Regions from separate parts of the Homo sapiens genome. Here region 1 is linked to region 2. Evidence: fine-mapped expression QTL. A gene starts in region 2. The other region holds a variant in brackets. All regions are shown on one strand. Distances are between the middles of the regions. Region 1 overlaps KY (kyphoscoliosis peptidase). Region 2 holds the start of ANAPC13 (anaphase promoting complex subunit 13).

Region 1 (16,231 bases), 120 kb before region 2:
GAGACTAGATTGCCTACCTGGCAGGGCTATAGGACTCAATGAGACTGCAGTTTGGGGGTTACCAACCCGATTTTGGGGTGGGTGTTTTTTGACCTATCTTGTCTTTCTTGAGTATTGATTGGAGTCCTTTTGCTCTGTGGAGTTTTCCTACAGACTCTGCCAGCCTACATAGATTCAGAAAATTGACACTTGCCTTGAGTGAAACTGTCAGCTTTTTGCCCTGGTCCAGATACTTAACAATGGCCCTATTCTGGCCTGCAGCTTATCATTAAAACTCTCCCTAACATTTTGCATCATTTAAAATTAGTTCCAACATGGTGATTACCATGTGCAAAATTCCTCACACTGCCTGAGATGTGTAGCAATAGCTCACGGTCCCCTGAATTCCTTTAACTGTTTCTTTAAAGATCAGTAACCTATCTATGCATCCCTCTACTAACTCTCTTTACCTTTAAAATAACTGCCAAAAGTTTGGTAAATTAATTAGCTAATTCCTTAATAACTGAGGACATATAATCCGCACTTGCTGATTTATCCCTTCTTGGTTGTCAGGGTGGACATCATTACTTTTTGCCAGTCCATTCCACCTCCCTGAAATTGTCTCATTAAAGACTGATTTAATAAAGTAATTTGGGGAGGAATTCAGATATTTTCACAACATCATTCAGTTCCTTCTGTCTGTCCCAAGTCACTGATGTGGGGTTTTTTGGTTAATGCTATAGCTTGTAACTGCTGGTCCAGTTTCCTTCTGACTTTCTATCATCCAACATTAATGTCTCTCTTTTTGCCTCAGTTGCCTGCATCCTTAGTTGATTCTGCCTAATTTCCTCGCAGGAGCCAAGCTTAATTCCCCAGACTGCTGCTCTTGAGTCGGCCTCCAGTAAATTCTCTTCCCGTTAGCATGGCTTTAGCATCACCAGCTAGCAGGTTTCAGAGACGTTGGATAAAGCCAGGCACTTATTACGAGTTTGAGCCCTGACACTGAGGGAGTTGGTTGTCACCAATCAGATGTCAGCTGGCTTTCCACTCATCCTCCAGCTGTCACTGAGAGCAGGGGCAGGAGTGTGTGCAGTCAGATGGCTGCTTCTGGTTAGCAGTATGTCCCCTATAATCCTAAAACATCACTTGGTTCCAAAGGCCCCAAAAGATAGGCAGTGGCCATCTAAGCCTTCTGGGAGATGCAGATTCATTGGATAACCTTAAATTATCACCAAATCTGATGCTGGTGTATAAGGCCTCTGAAAGGGACATCTTAGCTCCCCCACCCTTATAGCTACACCAAAGGATGGCACTCACAAAGATGAGTTATGTCACTGGTGCAAACCACCTTTCCATTTCACTCTCTATACCACCTACAAGTGTATAGATCAAAACAAAATCTTGATTTACAAAAGAGCTGGTGCAACATTGTGCACATGTATCCTAAAACTTAAAGTATAATAATAACAAAAATAAAATAAAATAAAAAGAAAAAAGAAAAAAAATTAACTTACCATGTCAGCTATGAGGAATATGAGGTCAAATGATTTTTCCATTTTCCCAATAGATGTTTTCACACGTGAAAAAAAAAAAAAAAAAAAAAGCTTCTTGAACTATGCATCAGGACAACTGCATCCACTGCTGCTCCGGCCACTGGCTAGCTGTGTGTCCCCAGGCAAGGCAGCCTCTCTCTCTGAACAGCTGACGCCTCCCTCACCTTCAGAGAGGAGGCCTCTGAAGTCACGTCTCATGAGGTTCTGCATGGGGCCCTGGAGAGAGAATTATTATCAAGATTACTAGTTATTGACGTAGCTGTAAGGGTAGTGTGTAAGAAAAGGGAAAAGAGAGCACATGGGAGAAATATAAACACACTGTCAGATTATAAGAAATCAAGTACATAAATTGTGAAAGATAAGTCATGGTTTGTTTGTCCTGCTGCAGTATAGAAACCACAGTATTTTCAACAAAATACCAAAAGAAAAGCATACTTCATAGTCTCTCCTACAGGCACACTCCCTCCCTTTTTCCCTCACTTGGCTCACACATCCTAGGAGAGGTGATCAGATTTGGGAAAGTCTACTGCGGTCAGAGCCCATTGGTGTAGGGTGCACCTGTCCACCCAGATATTTCAGCCACACAGCTGTTGGGGCCTGGCCTTGGTACTGACTGTAGGAGCATCATACAGTTCCTATGGCAGGGCCTGGACCATCTCAGTATAAAATAATACCAAATTAATACACTAGGATACAGTGCACCAAACTGGAACACACAGATCTTTTTAAATAATAAGGATAATGCATTCATAGAAGACTCAGCAGCTTCAGGGTTCATCAAGGGTAACCCAGGTAATGACATTGCCTTCTGCTTGGCTGCCCCTCTGTTCAGTCTCTTCCCATCAGGCCACATTTGGTGGCCATGTGGTCCTTTGCAGCCCTTGGGGCTTCTCTGATTGGGTCCCTGAGCCCTGATATTGCTGGAGAGTGGGGGCTGCAGCTTTCTCCAAATCCTCCAGGGTGCTCCTTGGCAGCTTGTTCAGGGCATCTTACATCCATGTTTTCATTGTGGCTTGGGATATATATCAGCCATGAGCTATGGAGGCAAAATTGAGGTTGTCAATTCTGTAAAGTAGAAGCGAAGATTCTGCAGTCTGAGGTCATTAAATAAATCTCCTTGGGTGATATTTTAGGCTCTGGGATGGCTGGTCGGAGCTCTTCAGGAGGTGGAAATGTTTCTAGTCCTCGGCCCCTCCTTCCGTGCTCTCTCAGCTCCTGCCTGCAAAGTTAATTCCTCCACCTTTGGGCTCTCCAGGTCTTTGCTTATAGACTGGGATTTTATAAGCAAAGTTCTGGAGACAGTTCCAGTGACAGTTCCCATATCCACCCTCCTTCCAACTATCAGCACATCTAGGGCAGCCACTGAGCCTTATTTTGGGGATATGATATTTTTTTATGTTGTTACATTGTGTTGCGTTGTATGGTGCCATGTCATGTTATAGCATTCCCTGCTACAGTGCTTTATACACAGTGTGTGCGGCCAGTGATCTTTTGATGACATGAAAGAGTTGTGGTTCATCCTGGCTAGCAAGAGTGGCTGGAGACAAAACTCCTGTGGGTTCCACAATCATCGTCTTATACATACAGAGGATTTTGCATGAGAATTATGGCATATTAACAATAATGCTTTACATTATGACCTTCTTTGTCCAATTCATCTGGCACATTGCTGCCAGGTAATAAAATATCCTCATATCAGAGTCAAGCATGGCATAAGCTTATAACTGAGTTTATATTTTCATCTTTTTTCTGCCCCAGGCATTCCCCACAGCCTTCCCAGCTTCTCCTCAGCCTGTCAGAGAAGAATCAACCCCTGGAGATCATTTAATGCCAACATTTCTCTCTGCCCATGATAAGCCTGGCAAGGTCACTCTAGAGGTGACCACCAGACCTGGGAGGTGACCTTATTTCCTGGCTCAGGGGCCATCACCCCCACTCAGAGCAGTACAGGTGGACATCCCTGCCCCTTGCTTCTTCCTCCTGCTCTCCTTTCCAGGGCTGGGGCAGGCTCTCGCTGCTGCTCCCTGACTTGGTTTTTCCAATCTTGCCTCCACTTCACTCCCTTGAGGGCAGGATGTCCCCCTGGGCACACGGCCTAGGACATGGCTTCTCCCAGGAGGACATTCCATACCCATTCTGATTTACCCCACCGCCTGGAGGCTGCACAAATGCTAAATTCCTCTCCTTCCTTCCTTGACTCCAGGTGGCTCTGAGCAGAGGACAAGCATCAGTGGGCAGCATGTCCAGAGGTCCACAGCGCCGCTAAATCAGTTCACCTTAATGCAAAACGAGCCATTCTCCAAGCCCCATTGTTCCCAGGACTCCCCTTATCCCTCCACATCATCCTAGAAAGTGATATGCACAGACATTCTAGGCAGCAATGGAAAGTAATTTCCTGAAGAATATAATTTTAAGTAGTATTTATGGCTTTTTTTCCAATTCTCAAAGTAACACATAATCATTATTAAAAATTTAGAAAATACAGAGAAGTTTCAAGAAAAACATTAAAATCACCTATAATCCCATTGCCAAAAGATCAGGTGCCTTTTGTGCCATCTCTCCCCCTCTCACTCCCTGCCCCTCCTTCTCTGTGCATGCAGGCAACACACACACACACACACACACACACACACACACACACACACACAGCATCGGCGTGACATTGTGCTGACTGGAGAGATTGACATGCTGTTGTCAGTTCACATCGTGTCAGGGGCACTGCTTAGCTCACTAAATATTTTTCACAACATTTCTTCTCCTCACCCAGTCTCTGAGTAGATGGGGCCCCACCTCCTATAGAATGTCTATCCCACCCCTACACCTCTACCCACTCCTCTGGCCTTGCTTTCCTCTGGTCCTTCTCTGCTAGCTGTTTCCTCTCAGACTATAAACACATCCAGACTTCCTCATCCTGAGAACAACCCCCTCAGCCTTGCATCCCCTCAGCACTCCCCACCACCTTCTGCTCTCTGCACTGCAGAGAAATGAGGAGAGAGCACTCCAGGTATGCAGGCTGCCCCTTCTCCCCTTCCTTCCACGGTCTCCTCAGCTACTGCCTCCTTCTGCCCTGGAGTGGCTTATGGCCTTTGCCAGCAGAAAATCACAACACTGGGATCTAGTTTCTCTTGCAGTCTGTCCCCATGCCCTCAAGTGCTCCCAGAAGCCATCCCACAGAGCCAAGCTGGTATGTTCTTATGGGATTCCTTAGAGGGCTTAGGAGGCCTGAACCTCCTTTTGTGAAGCAACAGGCAAAAGGGCGGGGGCTAGAAAACTTCCAAGCCCCTAAGGAACCTCAGCACTAGTGGCCCGGACTTTCCACAGGTGAGCAGAGGTTAAGGCAGACATGGTAACACCTCATCATTGCATGCATGTGAAGAAACACTGATGGCTGGGAAAGTAGAATCTGTTAACCCTCAGGACATCACATTTGATCCCAATGACTCTCTCAGCAAGTGATATGTATTAGTAATATTTAATCCAATATTTTGCTAATTTTAAATTACATGTTCATTTTTACAAGGAAGATTCCCCCAATTCCTATAGTAGATGCATGGCCATTTCACCCCATTCCCCTGGGAGGCTCCGTGGCCCTCTTGTTTAGAGCAACTGAGGCTGCAGCCCTGGTCTGTGGAAGGGCCCAGCCCCATGGGCCCATCTCACTGAAACAGACCCCACCAACACCCTGGACTGCAGACTCAGCTCAGCTGAGTACAGCACAGGGTCACCACTGAGTTGGGGACTGAGCAGCTTGTGTGGTACTCAAAGGAGCCCCATCAAAGGGGCATCAAGCACATCCTCGGTTTCACAGGTTGTGTATCTATTACACCAATTTTCCATGAGTGCAAGGAAAATGTCTTGAGGAAGGGGAACCTTTTCTAATTTACACAAAGGCCCTAGGAGGGCTAGCATGGGATGTCCCTAGGTCAGACTAGCAGTGAAATTGTCTGCACAGTCCATCCCCTTGGCTGTCCTCAGGGGAGCAGGGCTGCTGAGGAGCAAGACCAGCTGGCCATGAAAGGACACCCAGGGGTCTTGCTTTGGCCTTGGACTGGTGCCCACAGCCCAGGCCTGGGCCTCAGGGTTTTAGCTCCAAATGTCTCATTTTATATCTTCCCCAGAGGTGACCCATGCCCATCTTCCCATCCAGGTTCCCAGAAAGCAGTGCCAGCTCTACTATGAGCAGTGAAGGAGCACAATGTCAAAAGGACCCCAAAGCTCAGGTTGACTGGTCGGCATTTCCATTCCCCTCAGGACAGCCACAGGAGACTCCAGAATTGTGGCCAGGGCAGGCAGTCAGCAAATGACCTTAATGCACCATGATGGCTCTTGCACCATGTTCACAAAGGACAGACCCACCAGTCAGACCTGAGCAAACTGGCAGCTGGCCAGTCCTCCCTGGGCCAGGGCTGGAGACATCCACCGCCTGCCCCGGGGTTCCCCTGCAGGCATCCTTGGGAGGAATAGCAGGGGGGTAGGGCTTGGCTTCTGTACCCTCACAACCAGCAACCCCACAACACCTCACCCATGTCACGAGACCCATCTCTTCAGTCGCATGTCCAGAAGCGCCCTGGTTCTCCCAGCAGCTGTGCTCGCCCCTTACATGTAGGTTTTGTTGCAGGAACATTGTCATTTCCCCTGCTCCTATTTTCTTGAAGCCAGCCTCACGCTTGCCCCCATTTTTTCCTCCTGAAGAGCTGCTTGAGGAGCGTGTCAAGCAGGCTCTAGGGATGAACATTTCAGAAGTGATCTGAATGGTGTTGGTCTCAGGGGAGGAGCAGACAGCGGAGACTGCAGCCAGTCTGTACCAACAGGACCAGCCAGCACTGTATCTCCCTGTCCCCAGTGCCCCGAGATAAAAGCCATCAAGGCTGTTTATATGTGAGTACAAGAAGCAAGGAAAAGGATAGACAGGGAGGACTGATGGGCAGCAAACATGCCTGAAACCTGAGACCATGGACAGACTTGGAGGCAAGCCACAGCGGGATCCCCCTCTCAGACCCCCTGTCCTGCCCCCAGGCTCGCCGGAGTGCAGTGTATGACCGTGCCTGGCTACTCCAAGGGTTTCGGCTACCAGACAGGGCAGAGCTTCTCGGGGGAGTTTGACCATGCCTGGAATGCTGTGTACCTGGAGGGAAGATGGCACCTGGTGGACAGCACCTGGGGCAGCGGCCTGGTGGACACCATCACCTCCAAATTCACCTTCCTGTAAGTACTTGTCTCAGTTCTGCTGGGCGTCTGGCAGGTGGAAGTGGAGGATGTGCCAGGCAGCATGAAGCAGCAGGTGGAGAAGACCAAGCGGGAGGGGAAGGAGAGCCAGGAGGCCCCATGCCCACTCCTCCTCGGCTCTGAAGTGGGCTGGCTCCAGGCCAATTGTGAGGGCCCAGACCCTTTTGTCACCTCACCCTCCACTGACAAACTCCCCACTCTGACTCCCTATAACTCCCTCCACCAAAGCACTGAAAGCCTGCAGCATTTGCCCCCAGACCACACATGAGGAAAGGTGGGCTAATAGCCTTCTTTAGTTGTTGGCAGGTTCCCTTCCAGACTTTGGCCATTGACCACATTACCAGGCACAAATGCCAGAATGATCTCTTACTGCTTTGCCCAGACACCAGGCTCCTTCTCCTCTCAGGTCTGAGTGAGACCGTATCACATTTCTGAGGAAAGGGCTGTGGTTTTTGGGGAAGGGGTGCTATTGGCGGTGCAGGGTCACTGTGAGGCACAGTGGGGCAGGGCAGCCGGGGTGCAGAGGACTGGAGCATTTCTGTCCTCTGGGGCTCTGGCCAATCCTGGCCTTAACCTGAGGCTACATACAATATTCTTCATGGATCATGATGTTATCAGCAGCTCAGATTCCTTTTTATTCAGAAACATGAGTGTGCTCTCTCGATTTTTGCACCTTAAATCTTGACACTCCCACACATGGGACAAATACAAGCCATGTGCACACACATCCTACACGCAGGGCTCGCGTACTCACAGATACCCTCTTTACCTCTGTTATTCTCAACACTGCTCCTCTTAGGCAGAGCAAAGCCACCCCCATCTCAGGAAGGGCCTCTCTGTTCTTCTCTTGATCCCCATTACTGACATCCAGAGAGGCAGCACTCCAGTCGGCCCTGGAGAGCCACAAAAGGTCCCCGCCAGCACAGCTGCACAGCACAGAAACAGGTTGGGGTAGATGGAGGCAGTGAATTCAAGCACTCTGTCTCCCTGCCTTCCCACGACCCCACTGCGTGGTCCACAGGCTATGCCTTTCCCCCCTTTGAACTTCTGATTGTCTTTGAGCATGAGGCAGTCAGTTTTCCCCTCGACAGCCTAGGGCACTGAGTGCAGACCACAGTTGCAGGCTGTGGCCTTCCCTTAGAAGGGACCTCAGACCCTGCCTTGACTACAATTTCTGGAAGCATCCACTGAGGAGGAGTCTCCAGTGCCCATGTTAGGGTCGGAGATGGTGCCTCTTCCCATCCAGGGTGTCCATAGGACCACTCCGGTGGGTGTATTGGGCCCCTGCCTCCCCTGCATGGAGCTGGCTGCTAACCAGCTTGTCTCTGCTCCAGCTACAATGAGTTCTACTTCCTCACCCACCCTGCACTGTTCATCGAGGACCACTTCCCAGACAACAAGAACTGGCAGCTGCTAAAACCTCCTCAATCTCTGAGGCAGTTTGAGAACAACATGTATCACAAGAGTGAATTCTACAACAAAGGGATGCTGAGTGCCCACCCAGAGACTTCCATGATCAGAACAGGTGAGCCCGGAGCAGGTGCCAGTGTGCTAGCAGCAGGAATGGAGCATTTCGCACTGTCCTCCAGGAGCCCGCCTGAGACTGCGCTTTCAAGGCATGCCCTTCCAGACGCATGGCTTGTGAGCTTAGCACAAAGCTTGTGTGTGCATGTGGATGAGTGGAGGCTGCTGAGGCAGCCCAGGCCATCAGGGCAGGGAAGGGCCATAGGCCACATCAGCAGGGACAAAAGCTCACTCACACTAGCATAAACCCAGAAAGGGATGTGTCTGAAGGCTGCAGGTTTCCTAGAACTTGAAGGCTGAACACACAGCCTGGCATGTCACAGAAGCCAGGGCTGGGCACTTCCTAGCTGGGTGAGTCTCTCTCAGTTCACATAGCAGGGAAAAGGACTACGTCACCCTGGCTACACATAGCCTCTGGGCTCAGGTCCCCAACAGAAGCTACTGGCCTGCTGTGTTCTCTTCCCCAACTCCTGCTGGAGAGAATACATGGCCTCAGCAGAGCTGGAATCTGGGTGTTGGTGGTCCAACCAGCAAGGATGGGGAGCAACATGGGTCTCCCAGGACAGGTGGGGGCAGTCCCACCCAAGACAGAGAGTTGGGGCAGACTTCCTTAGGGAGGTGGCCACTGAGCTGGGTCTTGGGAGAGGAGAACAGGCCTAGTAGCTAGACAGAGATGGACATGTTCTAGGCAGCAGAGGAGAGGCGGGGACACAGTAAGCCCCCAGCCTCCAAACTCAGGCACCCCTGGATGAGGGCCAAGCTCCAGCACCTCTGCCTGGCTGGCTCAGTACCCCTCCCTTCTGGAGGCGGGACCCAGCCGTTTCCAGCCCACTCCCCTGGGGCAGTATAGGATACCCAGCTTAGCCATCTCCCATGGCTGGCCTGGGCTGACATGTGCTCTCCCAACCTTCACCACGGAGCCATGGCAGCTGAGTATGTTTGCACACTCTGAGGCATACGGGGGCTGCCCTGGAGGGCCAGAACTGGTCACAAAAAAGCAGGGCCTTCTCTGGAAGATTGTCTCTTATGCCTCTCCAAGGCCTTGGCACCTGATCCAGTGCTGGGCACACAGCCTGGGCACGCTGCACAGCCCTGTAAGTCGGGTCAGTCCAGCCTCCCACACCTCAGCAAAGGACTGCCTGGTGGCACCGTCTCTGCCACTGGGGCCTCCATCCGCCCAGGACAGGAGGTCTGAGCTCACACTGACTATTAGCACAGGGTGCCTGTGGGTGGGCCCAGAGCCCCTGGGGAGCTCCAACCCACATTGCAGGGCAATGGGGCAGCGGGGAGCACAGGTGTCCCCAAGTTAGTTCCAACTGACTTGTCCCTTCCACCACACAATG[A/G]CTTCCTTTGCCAAGTTGCTGAGCTCTTGCAAACTCTTCCAACTCCAAATACCTGGCAGCTCCTGCAGCTAAAATAACAGCGTGAAGTTGCTCAATTTGAGAATCCATTTCCTGTGCTTACAACAGATGCAGGGCTTGTTCAATGTATCATAGGCCGTGGAAATATCGGAAAGAACTGACCAGGTCAAAGCAACACCAAACTGATGTCATTGAGTGGAGTTTGCCTTTTTAAGAGACATAAAAATATAAACACCAGATTCCTTAATTTATAGAAATCTAAACCTAAATATGATTCCATATATCTGATACTTATGTACAGAGTATTTCTTTGTGGTAGCTAGTTCTGTTAAGAGAGGGGAGGGGAAGGAAACAAAATAGGGAAACTGAGATGAGCAGAAAGGAAGGGAAGGAAGAGGGCACCTAGATAAGGGGCTGGAAAGCTGCCAGGCTCTAGGAGAGTGCCGTGGAGGGGAGAGGGGAGGAGGAGGAGGAAGAGGGGACTGGAAGAGCCGTGGACTCCCATAGAGGTCTGCAGGGGTGGCTAGTCCTTTATTTCAAGTCTTCCCAGTCATTCAACACACCTTTGGCAAGAACCCTCTGGGTGAGGCACCACAACCAGGCACTAAGACGTGGCAGGAAATGAAACAGGCTAGCCCCTTCACCACAGAGCCCACAGGCCAGCAAGGAGTTCGGACACTACACAAAAATGATCACATGATGAATTACAGCAGTGGAACGTTCCCTGAAGGACAGCCAGGGCTAGGAGAGAAGCTGCCAGGGAACTCAGCCTCAGCTGAGGGGTCCGGGTGGGCTGCTTTGCCACGGGGACATTACCATGAAGCCTTATCCAGGTTTGGGGGAAGTGGTGGGGAGGGAGGAGAGGGTAGGAGGAACCTGAGGCATGAAGGGTTGTGGCCTTGGAGGATCTGAGAGAGTGCTTGATACTGGCGAGGCAGGAAGAGACAGGCTTCTCCACGGGTCTCCAGCTTGAGGGCTCTGCCGTGAGCCCAGGAGTAGCCAGGTGGACGTTTTCAAAGGAGCCCTGGGGCTGCTGTGTGGGGTGCTGGGTGGTGCTCCACAATCAAAGGTGAATCTCAGGGGGATCTGGGCTTCACTGTGCAGAAAAGACTCACAGCCAGTTGTGAGATGGAACAGGACCAGGGGCCGTGAGCAGTGAGGAGCTGAGGTAGCTTCTGCCCACTGAGCTGGTTCAGAAGTGAGGGGAGAGGAGGGTTTTCACCAAGAGGGGATAGCAACTCTATTGATCTTGGTCACTTTCCTTTGGAGGTTACCATGGGACAGATGTGGCATGCAGTGGCTGAAGGCAGTAGAGAAAGCATGTAGACAAATAAAATAGCATGAAAGCACCAAGAGTCACACAATTTCAGTGTAACAGAAGGGGAAGCAATGGCATTGGAGTTAAGCAGTGCTCAGAGAGTGGGATGAGGGCCAGTCCTCAAAGAGTGGGGGTCGCAAAGAGGGGAGAGTACTCAGAGGAAGGCGTGGAGGCCAGCAGCCTAGGTCCTCCAAGGTCTGAGAGGCCTCGTTATTAGGAAGTCACTGGAGGGTGGGGGCAGAGGGAAGTCACTGCAGTGCCAGAGAGCTGACCGGCAGAGGGGAAATGGAGGCAGTGGGGGGATGTGTGGGAGTGTAGGGCAGGTGCGGAGTGGGCAGTATGTGACAGGGTTGGGACAGCTTTTGAGCTGGGACAGCCACGAAGAAGGTAGAGGGGCTGTCTAAGCAGCCTCCCCATCATGCTGGCCCATGTGGTCTTCTCCCATTCCTGAGGTGGGAGTTGGCATGGAATGCAGATTCAATGAGAAGTCTATTAAGGCCTTTGTCCTAGAGCCCAGGCACAGTGTTCTGCCTCCCCTACCAAGAGTCCAAGCTAGGGGAAAGTTCCTAGGGACATGGATCAGACAGCCTCTCTCCTTCCTTTGCACTCAACTGTGAACGGGGCTGGGGAGGTTGCTGGGGCTGGGAGCAGATGACCAGCTTCTGAGAGAATTAAGACCAGGCTCTAAGAGAAGCCACGGTCCCTCCCTGTGGCCCTGGAAGCCAGGAGGGACCAGGCAGGTGGGTCCTCATGGGCTACAAAGACTGGAGAACTGACCACCTGTCCCTCAAAATCAATGACCAGGACAGACGAAGATGAAACTTCAGAGCAAGGGGAGAGATGGGGGGTGGCAGTGTGGGGGTTGCAAAAGACCCTCCTGTGCACACACTGACTCTTCAGGACCCATTCCTGAAACATGGCTAAGATACACCTATGTGAGAAGCATGGGGTGGGGGAGGTGGGGATCAGGGAACTGCCCCACCCCAACCTCCTATGCACAGTCTCAGGGAGTGAAGCCATTCTCACTAGTTTTAAGGACAATGCGTTGACATGACAGCATTGACACTTAGACAGATGCTACAGGGAGCAAGGTGCAAGCTAGACCTGAGACTTGGGGGAGATGGTGCCCCTCCTGACCCATGACCCTCTCTGGACACAGGCAACCTTCATCTAATGTGAATCAATTGGGCAGGATGCACACATACAGCTTGGGATAAATTTTTCTAGAGGCCCCTTAGCTTTCATTTCTCTCAAAGAAAACCACCTGAAGGGAGCAGGGAACCCTTCCAGCGGTGTGCTGCCGCTGGCTGATGCCATGCTCAGTGAAGTCATATTGGTTGCTTGAAATGGACTGTGGTGAAAGTATTAACACCGTGGAAATAGACAAGCTCTATAAGTCAGGACGTTTTTCTCCCAGGGAGACAGTTGTTAAACATTTACCAGCACATCAGCACGTGCTGGACCCATCTCTGCTGACCCTGACTTTCTCTCCTCAGTGAATGGGAAGGCCACGGTCACCATTGAGAGCTGCGCCCCGACGCTGTTCATGTTCATGCTCAATGGCAAGCAAGAGCATGGGCTGCTGAGCCTAAGGAAGAATGGGATGAAGTTGGAGGTGTACCCTCCAACCATGGGCACTCACAAGCTGCAGATCTTTGCCAAGGGCAACTCCGACATCTACAGCTCAGTGCTGGAGTACACGCTCAAGTGCAATTATGTGGACATGGGTGTCCAGCTGCCTGCTGAGCTTCACCAGCCCGTGGGCCCCAGCTGGTTCTCGGAGCAGATGGGCATCATGAAGCCCTCCCACCCTGACCCTATCATCCACACCAGCGACGGGCGCTGCTCCATCAGCTTCAGCGTGGAGGAGGGCATTAATGTCCTGGCTTCCCTCCACGGGGATGATGGCCCCATCACTGAGGAGACACAGCGGCGCTACATCTTCCAGCTGCACCGGGAGAAGCAGACCGAGCTGAAAGTCCAGCTGCCCCATGCAGGCAAGTTTGCCCTCAAGATCTTTGTCAAGAAGAGGCAGGAACCAGGAAACTACATCTTCGTCTTTAATTACCTTGTATGCTGTGCCAACACCAAGGTGAACTGGCCCATGTTCCCTGAGAGCTTTGGCAACTGGGGACAGGACAATGAGCTGCTGGAACCTCTGTCAGGTGTGCTTCCTGCCAACCGGAATGTCCCATTCAAATTGAAGCTGCATGGTATTGCCAAAGTCCTGGTGAAGGGGCAGGACACATGGCCCCTGACCCTGAACCACGAGGGCTACTGGGAGGGAAGCTGCAGCACAGCTGGCTGCCAGGAAGTCTATGTCATGGTGCTGGAGAATGCCAACCACAATTTCTACTCCTACATCCTGAAATACAAAGTGAATGCCCAGTGAGGGCTGTGCCCCGGTCTTACCCTCCCAAAGGGCCAAGGCCAGACCTCCCCAGGGAGGGCTCGAAGGAAGTGCAGGGAGCCCTGGACACCACTGAGTCTGCATGAAATCCCTTCTAGGCCTCTGCCTCAGTGTCCCACCTCTGCCACAGGAGCTGTGATCTTTGTGTTCTGAAGGCTTCACTCAGGTGTGGCTGTGACTGAGGGGGCAGAGGCAGTGGCTCTTTAGAAGGAAAAGGTGCTATGTAAATCTAAGGTATTGTAAACTGTACACCTGCATCCAGATGCCCCTTCTCGTATTAGTGCTGCTGCTGTTGTTGTTGCTGTAGGGTTGATGAGGGAAAGCAGGGATATTGCCCAGGTTGACAGCTTTTCACATGATGCTTAGAGAATTCTCTTCCATGCCCAAGGGGACATGATTTGCAAGGCTGGGTTGTCCTTGAATCACAGAGCCCCTTTCAAGCAATATCACCGTGCCTCTCGACAGCTCCGAGCCCCCAGGGAATCTTGGACTATCTTCTCCTCCCAGACCTGATCATCTTCTGCATCCTGCTGCCTCTTCATTAGCTACTTCTTGTTCTTCAAGAGCCCAAGAAAAAGGGTGTGGTGAGGAAGCCAGCTGACCCACAACTGGCTGGAAGCTGATCGTCTCCAACATCCCTAAGTATAGTCAGGAATGTGACAACCAGAAAGTTGTGAGGAGACTGCAAAGCAAAGAGCAGCCCATGCCCGCTGTGGCTGTGCAGGTGGGAGGGACACTGTCGGCAGAGCTGCAGCCTTGGTCTGAGGGTGTAAGACCTCCAGCTCTGCTCTGAGAGGAGTACACAGGGCAGGTAGTTCAGTCTAAGGCCTGGAGTGCCCTCCAGGCCCTCACAGAGCCTGGGCCTCAGGCCCCTGCCCCACCTCCACAGAGAGCCTCCAGAGGCTGGCCAGGCCCTTGGGGAGTCTTGTGGATAGCCCTGAATAAGGACCTGGGCGCAGATCAGGTGAGTAGTGCAGTGCGGCAATGCCGAGGAGACTCACACTTTAACAGGGCTCTGCCTGCCCCCAGTGTCTCTACCAGCAAAGCCAGGGCTGGGAAGAATTCCAGCTGCACGAGAGCAGCTTTTGTGCCTGTCTCGGAGAAAACATCCTATCCCGTCTCCTTTCCTCCCTTCTCTGAGAAGACAGCCCCCTCCAGTCTCACCTTGCATGGGGACAGCTCAGGGCTCCTTGCTTGCTCAGGCACAGACTGAGAGGCCTCAGCTGCCCAGCTGGCCCTCAGCAGCGCCTCAGGCTGCCGTTGCCATGGCAACGGAGGAAAGGCTGACTTCAGCGAGGGCAGATAAGAGGGAAAGGCGAGAGAGGCCCCACATGGCCACTGCAGAACCATCCTGGCACACAGACATGCTCCCTGCTGAACTCCCGGCTTCTCCAGCTCCGTGGCCCCTGGCTGTCTCAGTGCCCCCCAACCCCTGAGAGCCAGCACTGCCTGGCACCTCTCCCCACAGCCCCTCCACAGGCCTCCAGGCTCAACCACAGCCAGGGCCAGCTGGGACCCTCATAGCTTCCTCCGTGGCACTCACCCTCACATCCCTGTATCCAACAAATGCTCACAGAAGTACCAGATGCTTGGGCTACAGAGGTGAACCAAGGGGGCCCGGCCCCTGCCATCCAGAGTACAGGGTGAGGAAACTGCCAGGCAGCAGCAGCCTTCCCTGCCCAGGCCTGACTGAAGATCCAGGCTCCAGACACTTCTGTTCATTATCCCCCGGGATCCCTCCCCTAAAAGTCCCCACTGCCACCCAGCACGGTGGCCTAGCCCAGAACCAGCTCACAAGGGTGCCCATCATCCAACAGGCCGGCGGCCTCGAGCAAAAGGGGTGTCTCCCCTGGGGGGCTGAACTGTCCTGGGCAGGTCCTGCGCCCTCCGCAGTCTCTGCCACCGAGGCCACCCAGCCAGCCTCGTGTCACTCACACCTGAAAAATGCACAAAGGCCCCGGAGGCATAACAGCTATGCACCACCACAGGGAAACAAAGGGAGTTTTACACCCTGAAAACAGCCGTCTTGCACACTTCTGATTTTATGGGCTTAAAGAAATGTGTTTGTTTCATCAAAACAATAAGTGCCTTCGATGACGCATGTCACTCACTGGACCCCGCGCTGGCTGCCTCGCTTAGTCCTGCTGGAGACCCCCATACCTTTTCGATATGCAATATAATTAATCAATACATCCTGGAGCATTGCAGAGAATGCCACCCAGCAAAATAGGAGCTGTCCCCAGCACCAGAGAGGGAGGCCCCGCCCCTCAAAGCACCGCAGGGCATCAGCAAGCCCCTCCCTCTCGTTTAACTAGGCACCCCCTTTGTAAAGACAGCTGTAGGCGCAGTCAGAAAATCACCTGCATTTCTTTCCACTGAAGTAAAAATACATGAAATGAAATCTAATCTTCATGAATTTTTACACGCATGCTGCTCAGGGTAGACATTCGGAGTTGCATTTTGAAGGCTTTTCTTTAAATCCCCATCTTTGTTTCCCGGGCGACGAGTCCCAGTCGCCGGCGGAATGGCACGGGCGCCCCCAGGTGTCCGAAGTGCGGAGCTGCCGGCGCTGCACACCGCGAGGCTGATCTATCACCGGGCTTTTTCGCAGAACTTGAAAATGCTGTGGAAATGTTTATGTTAAAATCACTAGGTGCTTTCTCGTGGCTTCTCAGCGCTACCTTATGTGTACACGGAGGACATCTTTGTCACGCACAAGCTGTGAGGGCATCCTGGGGGACAACCTGGTGTGTTGAAAAGACAAGGGATGTGATGGGACTGTTTTGCCTGGAAATAACTTCTTGAAACAGAAGCACTTGACATAGGACTGGATGGAACAGCTGTGACTACACTCATTACT
Region 2 (16,231 bases):
GTCAGGAGTTTGAGACCAGCCTGGCCAACATGGTAAAACTCCGCCTCTACCAAAAAAAAAAAAAATTAGCTGGGCATGGTGGCATGCACCTGTAGTTCCAGCCATGGGGAGGCTGAGGTAGGAAAATCGCTTGAAGTCGGGAGGCGGAGGTTGCAGTGATCCGAGATCACACCATTGCACTACAGCCTGGGTGGCAGACAGAGATTCCATCTCAAATAAATAAATAAATAAATAAATAAATAAATAAATAAATATAAAATAAAGGGTAAGATACACCATGAAGAAAGGTGACAGTGAGAAAGGAAAGAGGACCCTTAAACTCAGTAGTGTTGATTAATATGTGTATGCTTCTCGCCTTTTATAATAAATCTTCAAAATGTTCAATGTCAAACCACTTTTCATTCCAAAATGCTTTTTCCTTAAACCCTTAAGACAATAACCAGACTGTGGTGTAGAGGTTCTGCCCCTGGGCTAATCCTCATCTAAAAATTATACTGCTGTAAGAAGTAGATTATTTTACTCAACACGTAATTCAATGTTGTACTAACAACTAGATATATAGTGATGAAAGATATGGCCCCTTTCAAGGTATTAATAGTCTAGTATGGGACAGAAAAAAATGAGCCAAAAAGGCTTTCCCAGTGTGATAAATATAGTGAGAGACATGCCCAGGGTGTTCCAGAGACACAGAGGAGAATGAGAAGACTGGAAAATAGAACCACTGCACCTTATTTGCATCTATTTTTAAAGATACTAACAAACTGAGTATTAAATTATTTGTGCACAAACGTGACAGGGAGGATTTTTTTTCTAGTTGGTTTATCCTACATATTACACCAAAATTGCAAAAATAAAAACCTAAAGAAAAAGGTTCCCATGTTTTACTCCACTTTCAAATCACAATACAGTCCAACTACAATGCAACCAAGATTCCATGTTTTGGTCCACTCTAGGAGAACTGGGAGGCAGTACACGGTCCACACCACACTAGATGGAGACCCAGGATACAGTCCTACTCTGCAACTAACTAGCTTTATATTCTCGGACTTGTTTTAACATCTGCAAAATGAGGGGCATGAACAATATTCTCTAAGGTTTCTTCCAGCTTTTTCATGGGTTCTAACAGCCAATTAAATGTCCACTGTAAGTAGCATGCTCCTGACAACCATACACGGATACTTAACTAACATGTAGGAAAGTGCTATTCTTATTGACAGTGCTATCACAGTTATTCAAAATTATCATTAGTAAAATTATACTTATTTAGGTCATGTTATTCTTAAACATTAATATATTTAGTAATATACATTAATATATTTTCTATGACTATTTAATAATATACTTAGAAGTTAAGTTACTGAATGTTCAACAGCTGCCTTGTACACATTGTCTAAATCAATCTTCACTATACTCATAAAAGACAGATACTATTACTTTGAGAAAACAGGCTTAGAGAGTTAAATAACTTGACTATGATAAACTAAAAATTATAGTCCTGGATTCAACCTAGACATTGTGGCAATCAATTGAGTCACAATCGATGTGCAACCTTTATATATTTTACAGTATTCTATATCTTAAAATATATCAGCCTATCTTTTGGCTTAATAGTGTCTTTGCAATAAAAAAAGAAATTAAACTGAAGTATGACATCACTACTGTGGCCACCAGGTGGCAGCAGCACAATAATGAAATAGTCACATAAGAAATATTGCTATTTTAGAAATCAAAATGGTCTAAGATAGAGATTCCTGTTTAAAAAAAAAAAAAAAAAGGAGGGAAGTGGACCAGTAATATCCTATGTGAGAAATAAAGTAAACTTACTAATGTGCAAAGTGTTTCTGTAATACCTTCACCATCTGCCTGGTGCCAAACACCATCAATTCTCAGGATCAGGCAAATAGTAAGGGCTGATTTTCTGTGGATGTTTGTCATCTGAGTTGCTCATAGTTATATCACTGATTCTTTTCCTAACCAACCTGACCATCATTCAACTCTATGCACTATGTCACTTTGATTTCTTCTTTGCATGTGCCATATAATTACATAAAATTAGACCATCCTGGCTAACACGGTGAAACCCCGTCTCTACTAAAAATACAAAAATTAGCCGGGCATGGTGGCGCGCGCCTGTAGTCCCAGCTACACGGGAGGCTGAGGCAGGAGAATGGCGTGAACCCGGGAGGCGGAGCTTGCAGTGAGTCAAGATCGCGCCACTGCACTCCAGCCTGGGCGACAGAGCAAAACTCCGTCTCAAAAAAAAAAAAAAAAAAAAAGAATACAAATAGAATGTCTTATAATAGGCAAATCTTTGAAATTCATTAACATAGACTTTATGAGCTAGAAAGCACTTCAGGCCTCTAATTTAACTTTATCATTTTACAGATCAGGAAAAATATCATAGTATATGCCCAAGACCAAATTATTCACAAAATGGGACACAGGAAGAAAATAAAAACTCCAGACAGAATTATGAATAAATGTGTACATACTAAGAGAAGGGATATGCCTAACCTTCAAGTCTAAAGGAGGATAACAATGCTCTCTGTCCCTGTACCTGCCTTGGTGTCGTTTTCATTACAAAGCTCTATGATTGTGTCAGATATACCATGGCCAGTAAACTATGGCTGTTCCGATGAACAATCAGTATTACTAAGCATTTTCCAGAAAGGCTCCTAATTAAACTGATACCAGTAAATAAGGTATTAGAGAAACTTTTCAAAATATTAAAGTTTTTAAAAAATTGTCCAAACTATAGTTCAAAATCCAGGAAGAACAATGAGAAAGTCTGAGAAATAGGAGTACATAAAAACAAACTTTTATATGAAAAAGTGCCATAAGCAAAGTTAACTGACAAATGACAACAGTACCTGAAAGTTTTACCACAAACGGTTAATTACCCAAATATATAAGGAGCTTATAAAAGATTAGGCAAAAAATCTATAGAAACATGGGCGAGAGGTATAAACAAGCAATGCACAGAAAAATACAAATGACAGTAAAAATATGAAAAGATGTTCAACCTTGCTCATAAGAGAAATACAAATTAAAACTACAGTAAGTTACCCTTTCTTCTGTACCAGATTAACCAAAAATTAAATGTTTGATAATACACTCTGATGACAAGGCTGTGGGACAACAGGCACTCATATACATAATAGGTAGGAATGCAAAATGAACACAACTGCTATAGAGGAGACTTTGGTAATACCTAACAACTGATATATGCATTTACCCTTTTATCCAACAACGCTACTTTTAAGAATCTATCCCACAGGCTCATTGGCAAAAATGCAAAACAACATATCCACAGGGATATTCACTGCATGACTATTTGTAATAGCAGAAAATAACACAAGTGTCTATCAAGAGGGGACGAATTAAATATTCATCCACCAATGGAGTACTACGAAACTGTAAAAAGGAATAACAATCTCTACATACTCCTAAGGAGGGGATCTACAGGACATATATCACTAGGTGAAAAACCCAAGATGGAAAACAGTATACATAATAGCACATTTTACCTAAGAAAGAAAGGTATGTTTGTCCATGTAGATTTGCTTTTAGGTATGTGTTTTTTTAATGGAAGGATAGACTCAAAACTAGTAAAAACAGTATCAGTAAGGAAGGAAAATAAGCAGAGTGGAAGAAACAGAGATGAAAGCTAAATTGTTTTATGGGTACTTGTTTTATGGGAATTATGCTAAGGTTTTGCATATAATAAAACAAATCAAAATGGGGAAAAAAGCAGTACTGAAAAATTGGAAACAAAATAAAATAAATCAACTACCAACTAGATATCAACTTGATAGGCTAACTATACAATAAATTACTTCATATGCCTTTAAATACAATAATTTTACTATACACTTTCCTAGAGACATATAAAATAAGGATAAAAGACAGTTGCAAAGAAATCCTAAGCACTATTCAGGAATCATATTGATAATAAAATAGCCTGTTAACTTGAAACCATTATATATAACATAGGATGAGGAAAAAAAACTAATTCTATTAATGGCACTAGGCACCAAGACTCAGCAAAAAAGATACAAACATAAATCCAACGTGTGAAAAAACTGTAAAATTAAGTTTAAATTTTGGAAATTTAAATGTTAAATGTTGGAAACAATGCGAATTTTGCATATTTGTGTTTTTTTTAATATATAATATTTCCTAACTCTGGCCACCATAAATCCTAGAACTAACGACTAACCTAGTAGCAAGAACACCTCTCCCACCTAGGTAAGACTGTGGTCTCCAAATACTATCTCAGACTCAAAAGAACCACGGCTCCTTGAAGACCAGAAATCTATAAATGAGCCAGGAAAATTATTTACCAGAAAGCAAGGAAATTACCAAAGCTATTGGTCATATCAAATGGAATAGGAGCCAACTTTAAGGAGCTCCCACTGGCCAAAGATGAAACAATTTGAGTATTAAAAACACAACTGCCATATGTTGAAACAGTTTAAATATAAAGTCTATAAGTTCATGATTATAGGTTTACAAAAAGGCAAAAACCCTCATGGTTACCTTTGGAGGCTGCTAGGCCACCAACTCATTACTGTGGTCTGAAAATAGAGGCAAAGAATTAAGCATTTTTCTTGCCTTTCCTGTACAAATTGTATTTCAGGGTAGTCAAACAGCTGGAAAGGGAAAGTTCTTCATAAAAGACTCTCAGTTGATAAATATTGAAGAAATAATAGAATTAGATAATCACCACGTTGCAACCTCTAATGCAATAACGGATACAGGCAATATAACCCCACAAAAGGACTTCACCACTAAGTGAAAGAGTCTTGGGGAATTTCACTATGGGTGGATGGAGCTAACTACACCTAAACCCAATATAATGTTTAATGTTAACATCATAAAAAAAGAAAACAACTCAGACACTGCTTCCCTGATAATTAATGAAATAGGAAGTATACTGCATTACCTATGAAATTATCTGTCCAACCCCCCCAACTATCCCACCAAAAAACAAAACAAAAACAAATATAAGGGTGAAATCTCATCAGGCTTCTAGAGCAGTGCTGTTCAATACAACTTTCTGCAATTATGAAAATATTTTATAACTGCACTGTTCAAAAAGCAGCCACCAGGCAATCTGTAGCTACCGAGCACTTGAAATGTGGCTAATGCAAGTTAGGAACTGAATTTTTTTTTTTTTTTTTTTTTTGAGACAGTCTCGCTCCGTCACCCAGGCTGGAGTGCAGTGGCGTGATCTCGGCTCACTGCAACCTCCACCTCCCGGGTTCAAGCGATTCTCCTTCTCCTGCCTCAGCTTCCTTAGTAGCTGAGATTACAGGCGCATGCCACCACGCCCGGCTAATTTTTCATTTTTAGTAGAGACGGGGTTTCACCATGTTGGTCAGGCTGGTCTCGAACTCCTGACCTCGTGATCCACCCACCTCAGCCTCCCAAAGTGCTGGGATTACAGGCGTGAGCCACCGCGCCCAGCCTAGGAACTGAATTTTTAATTTTATTTCACTTTAATTAACTAGCCACTGCTGGCTGGTGGCTACAATACCGGACAGTGCAATTCTACATCTAACTACTGGTTTAGAGCAGTGGTCCCCAACCTTTTTGGCACCAGGGACCTGTTTCATGGAAGACAATTTCTCAACACCGACAGGGCGGAAATAACACATTTTGTAAATATCTTTTTGTTAAAATTCATATGAAATGTTTTGGGGGAGGAATGGCCAAACCACTTTTTTTTGTTTTTTGAGACCGAGTCTTGCACTCTTGCCTGGTCTGGAGAGCAATGGTGTGATCTCGGCTCACTGCAACCTCCGCCTCCCGGATTCACGTGATTCTCCTGCCTCAGCCTCCCGAGTAGCTGGGATTACAGGCGCACACCACCACACTCGGCTAATTTTATTGCATTTTCAGTAGAGACGGGGTTTCACTATGTTGGCCACACTGGTCTCAAACTCCTGACCTCATGCCCACCTCGGCCTCCCAAAGTGCTGGGATTACAGGCGTGAGTCACCGCGCCCGGCCAACCACTTCTTCAGTAATATGAATAATACACATGGACAGGGTTAGGGGCATGGTTTCAGGATGAAACTATTCCACCTCAGATCATCAGGCATTAGTCAGATTCTTATAAGTGTGCAACCTAGATTCCTTGCATGCGCAGTTTACAATAGGGTTCGTGCCCCTAGGAGAATCTAACCTCACGGCTGATCTGACAGGAGGCAGAGCTCAGGTGGTAGGTAATGCTCACTAGCCTGTCACTCACCTCCTGCTCTGTAGCCTGGTTCCTAACAGGCCACGGACTGGTACTGCTCTGCGGCCCCGGGTTTGGGGGCCCCTGGTTTAGAGGACACAAAGGCAACAGAGATACATGTTAAAGGATACTGTGCGATGCAATCTGCTAAATTTAGAACTGTAAGGAAAAATAGGGGCTAATCCCATAGCTATAACTATGAGGGAACAAATATAGATTAAAAGATGTCAAATGTGCATCACCCAAACACAATAGGCAGATCCCTGTGGGATTTTGGTTCAAACAAGCTAATTGTAAAAAGACATTTAAGAGACAGTTGAAGAAATCGTTATCTGACTGGATATTGACATTAGAGAATTTTTATTAATTTGTGTATGTGTAATGACAGTACTGTGGCTCTGTAAAACTGAAAAACCTAGCTCCTGATGGGGGCGGGGAGGCGGACTAAAATAACATAAAGATCGGAGATTCAGTTCCTGAAACCTTCTGTCAATGTTGGCTTTAGCTGAATTTCAAGTCAAGTTGACATTTTTTGAAAGCAGGAAGCAATGACAGAGTGGACTACTGATGCTGTCACCATCTGCCAGCACAACATAAATTAGAACAGAAAGGACTAAGCAAAGGTCTTCCACCATTTTAACGAGAGGAAATGGCATCAGTACAATCAACATACACAATTTTTACAAACAACTTTTAGATTTGCATCTACATACATTTTAAAAGGCAGTGTGCCTGTTTATAAATCTCTACTCTAATTTAGTTTCAGAGCTTTTTACTACCCTGATCACTGATAATGCCACAGTCAAAAAGCAAACTCAAAATAAAAATCAATCTAAAAATGGTACTGCATGCCAAATAAGAAAATATATACACTTTATCATTAAGCTACAGCTAACAGAAATCTAATCAACGATCCTTATGATTTCCTCGTATCTAAAAAATAAATGCAAGCACTTGAGGAACTGTATAAATACAGGGCATCTACCCTACAATACTGCTTTATTAAAATAATAAATTCTTTTAATAAGTTTAACCAGACATAAGGCTCAGGGAAAACTACTCTGTGCATATCAGCGTACGGTGCTGAAACTGTAAAAGACGACCTGTCTCTGACATCATACTCATCTTTACTCTCCTGATGTCGTAAGGGACGTAAGAAAAACCACATTATAAGCCTAAATGTACTGTCTTCAAGTATCTCCATGATTAAAGTGTTCCTAAGAAACCGTCCTTATTTCTTTCTATCCCTCATTTGTGTGCATGGAGCCGTTAGTTCAGGGTTCTCCAATTTCAGTCCACGATTTATGCCACATTTCCGTACCTCTTGTACTAACATAACCGTTTAAACCAACTCACTATTTTAAAAGCTGCCAACCTTAACATGCCACACTAAATGAGCGGGTCCCCTTGTGCCGTGAATGAAGTAGTCCCAACAGCGCTAGCTAGACAGCAGCCCTGGCAGGGAGGCCGCACTGGGGTCTCTCCGCTGAAAAGGAAGGTGGGTCCGCCGGGGAAGGTGAGTACTGGGCGCAGCTCGCTCGCCCACCTGGCCACTCTCCGAAGCGCCCCCAGCCACCTGGACTCCGAGGAAGGGCTGACCACCTGGCGGGGCCGAACCCCACGCCGGGCTGCGCCACGCCAGACTCCGCCAGTGTGCAGGGCATAGCGGGCCAGGCCGAGGGACTGGGCTTCGGGGCGGACCCAAGCCGGCGGGGACGCGCCTGGTGGTTCGCAGGCCGTTGCGCAAACCGGCCGCAAGCCATGAGGCCGCGAAGCCAGAATCACCAAGGCAGCCTGGGCCGCCTCCAGACCAGGACACGGCAGCCCCTTGCCCCTCCAACTTGCGCACCGGCGGTTACAGGGTTGCCGCAAGCACGCCCCTGAGCCTTCCCGCCGTTACCTCGGGCCGGCGCTGCGCACGCGCGCCACCGCTAAGCTTACGTCCAGCCTCTGTAGTCGGCGCGTTTGTTCCGCCCACTGCCCCCACACTTTTAATAATTGAAACAATGCCTTCTCCAGACTTCCCCTGCACGCGAGCAAATGAACTCACCCACATCCGGGAATCCGAGGAAAGCGAGTGCAGACACGTGATGCGGGGGAGGGGGGGGGGGCGTGGCAGGAGCAAGCGTCTGCCGCGGTGGCCGGGTGCCGGTAAGGGTTTCCAGCGCCCCCGGCCTAGGTTTTGGAGGCGCGGGAATGCGTTCGTTGCTCAGTGTCGGACTTCCCCCTATTCCCATCGGCCGAGGCTGTCACTTTACGCTCATAACCGTTTTTCTTTACTGCACTCGTGTCGGGAGGAAAGGGACTTGCGTGGCACCCCCAGACCTCCCCGTCTCCGCTTCCACGTTTGGTACATCCTGCCTGAGGCAGGAAGCCGCAGCTGAGGGACGGCCTGTCGTACGGTGCGGATGGTGGTGGCCTGCGAGGCTCATTTCTAGCAAGGAACAAGGCTTTCCCGCTTTGATTTTATAAATATTATGTTTACAAAGCTGTAATATATAGAAATTGATAAGACGTGTCCCTGTCCCTGGAAACGCAGGCACCGCGTGTTTGGAAAGACATTCATCTGGGCTGTTTGACAGACTCCCCAGTTGGTGCCATGCTCTGTGCTTAGGGAACTGTGAGACCCCTGGAGGGGTGGGTACCGGGACCGCACTCAGCCTGGGGTTTGGAGGCGGCCTCCTATAGGAAGCGACCTGGGACCTAAGATTTTTAGACTGACTGTGGGTTCACTGGAATAAAAAGGAAGAAACAAAGAGCATTGCAGGCATCGGGACTGTCACGTGAGTAAGAAAAGTTTGTTCAGGAAACAGTGGTCGTACTGGGTGACGAGTACTTGGGACGGTGGCTTTAATACACAAGATAATCAGTGTGCCCTGGGCATTGATTATCTTGATGCTTCCCATCCTTCCAGCCCCTTATGAGGGAAGGCACCTTCGCGCCTAATCCCGGAAATGGGATGTTGACCTTCAAGAGCTGACGCCTGCGTTTATCTTGAAAGGAAGAGTGGCATTAGTGATGTGGAAAAGGGGGTTTTAACTGTCAAGGCTGGAAAATGTGACAGGGTTGGAGGTGTTTGGAGAAGGGACAGGTGAAAAAGATTGAGACCAAATGTGGAAAGATCTACTAAGGAATCATGGGTACAAAATGTACACGTAACAGTTGGAGGCAATAATACCTGAGCAATTGACCACAAAGCTGACCTAGCTTGTTTAGTAGATTAAGTTAGGACAAGAAGCAAGAGTTCAAGGATAGAAGGCCTACTGAAGCTCGAGTGATTTGAGAAAACTTTACAAAGGTGGAAAATCTACGTGGGCCTCCGAAAGTCAGGTTTGGATCAGCTGAGGAAAGTGAGAAGGGTATCCCAGGAGACAGAGCAGCAAGGACAAAGGAGTAGCAGCAGGAAAGTGGGGAGCACTTGTAAGACAGGGACTTCAAAAGTATAACCAAAACTTCGTCTTGCTTTGAGTTATCCACTGGGTAGTACTCGGTTAATTATTGAGTACTGGATTAATTAAGCCCTCACCTGGCTCACCGGTGACAGAAGTAGCAGGGCGCATTTTGCTTAACTTTTGCCGAGATCCTTGTCATGGGGGTGTAAACCCTTTCCCACACCAATCTGTGTATAATTTTTGCCAAGGTGTTAGGGATATCTTGCAGTTATCCTATGGGGGACAGCTGTGAGCCTTTTTGGTTTTTTTTGTTTTTTTTTTTCCGAGACGGAATCTTGCTCTGTCGCCCAGGCTGGAGTGCAGTGGCGCGTGGCGCTATCTCGGCTCACTGCAAGCTCCGCCTCCCAGGTTCACGCCATTCTCCTGCCTCAGCCTCCCGAGTAGCTGGGACTACAGGCGCCTGCCACCATGCTCGGCTAATTTTTTGTATTTTTAGTAGAGACGAGGTTTCACCCTGTTAGCCAGGATGGTGTTGATCTCCTGACCTCGTGATCCGCCCACCTCGGTCTCCCAAAGTGCTGGATTACAGGCGCGAGCCACCGCGCCCGGCCCTGTGAGCCATTTTTACAAAAACTTCCACCTGCCTTGGCCCAAACCTCAGCGTTCTTAGGCACAGGAGCTCATGAACATACTGAGATAACACTAAACTGGACTATGCGAAGGGACCAACTACAGACCTGACACAAATCCTCAAGGCAAGACGATGTCTGAAGTTGAGCTTGTAAAGGAAATGGCTTCCTTCCTTAAAATATCACCCAGGCTGAGCTCTGAAAAAAGCACCTCCAGATGGTGGGTTCCACCCCGCTCCACCACCCCAAAATTGCTTATTGTGTGAGTCTCCATAGTCTCAGAAACTGAGAGTACCTTTGATGCCAGTGGCTTCCGGGCTTTTTGGATTGTCACTTGGTAGCAGGGAGCACCCATAGGATGATGCCTATGATGAGTCAGGGCCCAACCTTGGAAACAGGGAAATCCAGAAGTATCCTACAAGCTAGCCAGCCTTTTGGATTAGATTATAGCAGTTTCAGAGAAAAATGGGGAATCAGCCATGGTCAAGGAGCTAAATAAGCATCGTGACCATTTGGGCCAGAAATTGAAGGGAGTGTAGCGTTAAGAATTAGAGGAAGGAACCTCCGAGGAAGGAGCTACCCCAAAGGGAAGCAGAAACTGGAGAAACTTTAGCAGTATGAGGTTCTACCACTGGTGTTCACCTAGAAGTGCTTTATTCAGATCTCAGCCTGGGTACTATTTTAGGGAAGGAAGCCGTTTCCTTTACAGTATGTTCGTGTGACTCCTGTGCCTAAGAATGCTGAGGTTTGAGCCAGGGGCTAGAAAGGAAACTTAGCTGGCCATTATGAATCAGGGACTCATCAAAGGCATCACAAACAGGAAAAGGTGAATGTTCAAGTTAGAAGAGAAGAGCTACATTGAGATGCAACATATTAATATTTGAGGGCCTCGTTTAACGTGTTGCTCTCCTGTCACACTCTATGACACTGGTCTGTCAGCTGGGCTATGCCTGTCCAGTATACACTATAAAATATGTATCAGTTGGGGTTGGAGAGAGGAACTGTGATCAAAGTAGTCACCCGGCCCATATGAGAAAATGAACCTTTTCCCAAAAGGTGGCCCCAGACTAAAAAGCCTGGAGAATCCTAATAGTGGATTATACCATCTCTTCAGTCTTCGTGTTTAAGAAATAACCTCTTTGGCTTACAGATTTGACAAGATCAAAGCTGCAGGAAAATGGACAGTGAGGTTCAGAGAGATGGAAGGATCTTGGATTTGATTGATGATGCTTGGCGAGAAGACAAGCTGCCTTATGAGGATGTCGCAATACCACTGGTAGGTTATGATTTGAGCTGAGGATGGGTTAAAGGTATTGATCTGGCAGTAACTAGTGGAGGAGGGATATCAATGGAAGATAAACTAGTGTGGCAAAGAAATCAAAGCTGTGGAATTCTCTAACTCTAGAAGCTTCTGGAGAGCATCCAGTTGTATGTTTTATTTGAAGAAAAATGTGGTTCAGGGAGCTAACATGGCCAGGTCAGTTAGGAGTCATGCCAGGACTAGAGCCCCGATTTTCTGAGCCATGTTCTGTCCACCACACGAAAACCAGAGAAACCAAATAATGAGAGTTTAATGCGCAAGATGGGGAAGAACAAGAAGCAGCAGCATATGAGCTCTGTTTCTTACTTCCCTGCCTGTGGCTCATCAGTCTTTCAGCATTTTTAGAAACTTACATTCTTGGAGCATACACCTATCTTAGGTTCCCTGGAAAATATTCAGAAGATACCTGGGTATTCTTTTGCGTTTAGGCCAGTGGCCTTCTGGAATACTCTTTTCTTCCCCATCTTTGGAAAACTCTGCTGCAGGGAGTTTGTTAAACCTCATGTAATAAGTGATCCAAAAGTTTTGCTTATATAAATGTTTGTTTAAAATCCTATTTATGTCATAGAGGCCTAAAAAAGGGAAAACAGGACTGTTTTTCTTTAAAGCATGCCAGCTGCCCTGAGAAGAGTAGTTAGTATTGAATAAAATATAATTTATAGTTAGAATATCTGCTGTTGCTGTTTGCAAAGAAATAAAATAGTTCATCTGTATTTTCATTTACGAATAAGAGATAGTAATATGTTCAATGAATAATATACATATCAAATAAGTCATAGCTTAGTTCAAGCTTAGGAAAATAGTCAAAAGAGAGAGCATAATAAGAATTATAGATGTCATTTATTGAATACCAGTTTTATGCCATGGACTGAGGTTGGAAATATACATTATCTCTAATTCTTAAACAACCCTGTGAGGGAGGTGCTGTTATTCCCATTTTATAGGAAAAGAATAGGATCAGAAAGGGCAACTTGCCCAAAGTCTGGTAGCAGGTAAGTAGGGCTTCATATAACATATACCTAGGTCTGTGAAGTTCCAAATCCTGTCTTGTGAACTTCTGTTCATTCATTCATTTGACAAGCATTTTTTGAAGCCTACTGTGTGCCATAAGACTATGTGAACATAAGATACAGTTCCTCCTCCTGAGGGGTCTAGAAAGGCAACACTTATAGATAAGTAATTGTGATAATAAATATTCTAGGTGGGGGCATAAACAGCCACATCATATACGAAGTGGCTGATTGCCTGGTGGGCATCAGAAAGGCTTCTGAGAGAATGTCATGTTTAAGCTGGGTCATAAGGAAGGACCAGAAGTTTAGTGGAGGTAGACAAGGGTATTGCAGCAGAGGGGACAGATGTGTAAAGGCCCAGAGTTTTGAAAGGCTTTGGGACATGGTGAGTCATTCACTGTGGATGAAGAATACATTTGTCACATAAGTAGGCTGAAAAGTTGGGCTTGGATCAGATTGAGAGTGGTATTTGATATCACACTTAGACCTCATCCTCAGGAGATCCAGGAATGAATGGTCTTAAAAGCAAGACTGCTATGCTCAGATTTGGCTTTTGGAAAATCAGTTTAGCCAGCATTGTTAGAGATGGTGTGACATGGAGATAGGGGCAAGTGAGACCAATTGGCAAGCTGTTGTGGTCTAGGCAAGGGAGGAGGGCCTAAACAAAGTCAAGAAAATAAAGGAGACGTCCATTTCTGGAGAAGTTTATGGCTCAGATTGGAGAACATTTGGGTGGCAGGGGTGGAAGGAGGTTTCCCTGCTGACTTCCAGGCGAAGTTGGCTTGGCCCTGCTGCTAATCCACACCTTTCGCTTGTCTTGCGATTCTAAGGCAATGTGTATGCCAGTTAGGTTTTGCTGCATAACAAGTCACCCCAAAGCTTAGTGACTTAAAAGAGCAACTGTTTATTTCATGATTTTGTAGCTCAGCTGGGAGGGACTTCTAGTCTGCACCAGCTCAGCTGATCCCTGCCAGGCTTGCCTGTGTTGTGCAGTCAGCCAACAGACTCTGGAGGCTGGGTAATCTAGGACTGTCTCACATGTCTGGCAGTTAACAAGCTGTCTGCTGGGTGATGGGGTGACTATGCCATGGTCTCTGGTATCCAGCAGGCTAGCCCAGACTTCTCAATCTCAGGGTTCCAAGAGCAACCTGAGAGGAAACGGCAGAGCTTCTTGGAGCTTAGGCCAAGAACTGGCCCACTGGCATGACAGCTTCATTCTGTTGGCCAAAACAACTCACAGGGCCAGTCCAAATCCAAGATTGGGGAAATCAGTTTCACCTTTTGATAAGAGTAGCTGCAAAGAACTAAGGGCATTTTACAGTACACCATAATGGGTGGCTGGGTTTATGATACTTTTGTTTTTGTTTTCCAGGCATATATGCCATTTTATGTGTTGGCATGTATTGCAAGGGACAGTAGATACCAAATGAAAGACACATTATTTTAGAAAGCATACCACAGATAGGATGAAATTAAGCAACGTTGTCTGCTTCTGAATTAAAGAATTCATTAACCAAGGACCTATTTATTCTTTGTCATCTATAAGTAATTATTAGGACTGAACTTTCTTTTTAAGTTTAAGATAATATATTATTGCGTTACAATAAATGATAGCTCTTCTCAATCTGTTCAAGTATGTTTGAATCTGTCTTGTAGAACAAGATGTATGTGATTCAAATATAGATAAGTAAATATCATTTAATATATATTGAGCATAATTTTAGAGGGGAAAACATATTCACATACTACAAATTAGAATCCAGTGGAAAATTTTAAGTCTGGATATCGCATAACAGTTTGCTAACCATAAAACAAAACACAGATAATTGAAAAGAAATATATTGGTATCTGTGAACTCTGGTACAAAGCAGAGTTTCAGTAGTAATACATTTAAACTTAAAATACAAGTAAATGATCCCAGATCCTACAGTAAGTGTGGCCCATGACTTACCATTTTAAGAAAATTGCTGGTAGGGTGTGAATTGGTCATTTGTTGTGTTTTTTGTTGCTCTGCTCCACCACTAGAGGGAGGTCTTATCTATTAATTACATTTTCAGTGTTTCCTGCCCTACCTCCATTTTTATTATAATATAGACATGTTGGGCCAGGCGCGGTGGCTCGCGCCTGTAATCCCAGCACTTTGGGAGGCTGAGGCGGGTGGATCACCTGAGGTTGGGAGTTCGAGACCAGCCTGACCAACATAGAGAAACCCCATCTCTACTAAAAAAAAATAAAAAAATACAAAATTAGCCGGGCATGGTGGTGCATGCCTGTAATCCCAGCTACTCGGGAGGCTGAGGCGGGAGAATCGCTTGAACCCGGGAGGCAGAGGTTGTGGTGAGCCGAGATCACGCCATTGCTCTCTAACCTGGGCAACAAAAGCAAAACTCCATCTCAAAAAAAAAAGACATGTTGGGTCCAAGATAATTTTTTGGATACATTTCTTGTGTCTAAGGAATATGCCAGCAAACTAGTATTCTTTTAAAGCACGCTCCCGCTAAAGAAGATTTAGGATTCACTCATCTCAGTGTTCCTAGCCGCTAATAATAATAGCAAATATTCCTTGAGCACTGGATACCCCACAGAGTGCTCAGCACTTGATCTGAATTACCTCACCTAATCCTTACAGTAGTCCTGTGAGGTGATGGCTCTTTTGTTCTCCCATTTGCCAAGGAAGAAACAAAGGCCCCAAGGGTTTGCATACCTTGCCCAAGTAACCCAGCAAATGGGAGAGTTGTGGTCTTGGATCCTAGTTGGCTTCCAAAAGCCTCTGCCCTTAACCTTTCTGCCACAGTGCCTCCTTCACAAATGTCAGAGTCAAAATGCCCATCATTCCCTACTGAAGAAGGCCCGGGCCATGTTTGAATGATACTTCTGATAGTTTCCTCACGTGTATGATTTTAGCTTTTTTAGAATACACATATCAATTATGTTGCCTGTTCCTAGGAACTCACAAGCTTTAATTCTAAGTGTTCTTGAGTTCCAAGAAGATGCAGAATATATTACTGTTCTGAATTTCTATTGTACCTTTTCAGAATGAGCTTCCTGAACCTGAACAAGACAATGGTGGCACCACAGAATCTGTCAAAGAACAAGAAATGAAGTGGACAGACTTAGCCTTACAGTACCTCCATGAGAATGTTCCCCCCATTGGAAACTGACGCTTGGCTCCTTTCTTGTGGATGGATTTTCTCAAAGTACACAGATAAAGCATGGTTTGTTTCAGTCTCCAAATTCAAACCTTTGAGTAATAAATCAGCACTCAAAAATGTACACCCATTTAGTTTGTGGTAGCAAAGTGCAATGCGAAATTGAATGAGAAACTGAGATTTCTCAGTAATGGTGAATATTTCGCTCTTTAAACCTAAAACTCTTCATTGAGTAGCTTATATTTGAACATGATTGGTTAAACATTTGCCTCTACCTCTGATTTTGCTTTGCTGTCAAAGTTTAACACCTTCCAACTACTTATGTGTGTCCTGTAACACAGGTGATTGAACGTATGAGAGGGAAAGGCAAAGAAAAAGGAAGCCAGACACTAGGAGAATTATTAACTTCTCATACTTCCCCACATTGAGAAGCATTCGGAGTGTATTTAGCCTGTAGATGTTGTGATATGCAAATATCCCATTCCC

Evidence for each region.
Region 1: its variant is fine-mapped to the expression of ANAPC13 in whole blood (TOPMed, PIP above 0.99).

Annotation. Positions count from the first base shown.
Region 1 is chr3:134,600,701-134,616,931 of GRCh38, reverse strand. KY (kyphoscoliosis peptidase) reads left to right here. Exons shown (of 11, transcript NM_178554.6): 9 at 6,549-6,737; 10 at 8,093-8,283; 11 at 12,458-16,231. The coding sequence ends at 13,353. It also overlaps a transcript of CEP63 not described here. Among named protein-coding and RNA genes, the nearest start is that of KY, 42 kb to the left of the region's middle. RefSeq lists a silencer at 12,571-12,865. The variant A/G (reference allele first, on the strand shown) is at 9,626.
Region 2 is chr3:134,478,116-134,494,346 of GRCh38, reverse strand. ANAPC13 (anaphase promoting complex subunit 13) reads left to right here and starts at 8,362. Exons shown (of 3, transcript NM_015391.4): 1 at 8,362-8,395; 2 at 11,416-11,541; 3 at 15,632-16,231. The coding sequence starts at 11,443. The coding sequence ends at 15,757. CEP63 (centrosomal protein 63) reads right to left here and starts at 8,290. Exons shown (of 15, transcript NM_001353108.3): 1 at 8,145-8,290. RefSeq lists enhancers at 7,358-8,176, 8,268-8,377, 8,458-8,557, 8,588-8,707.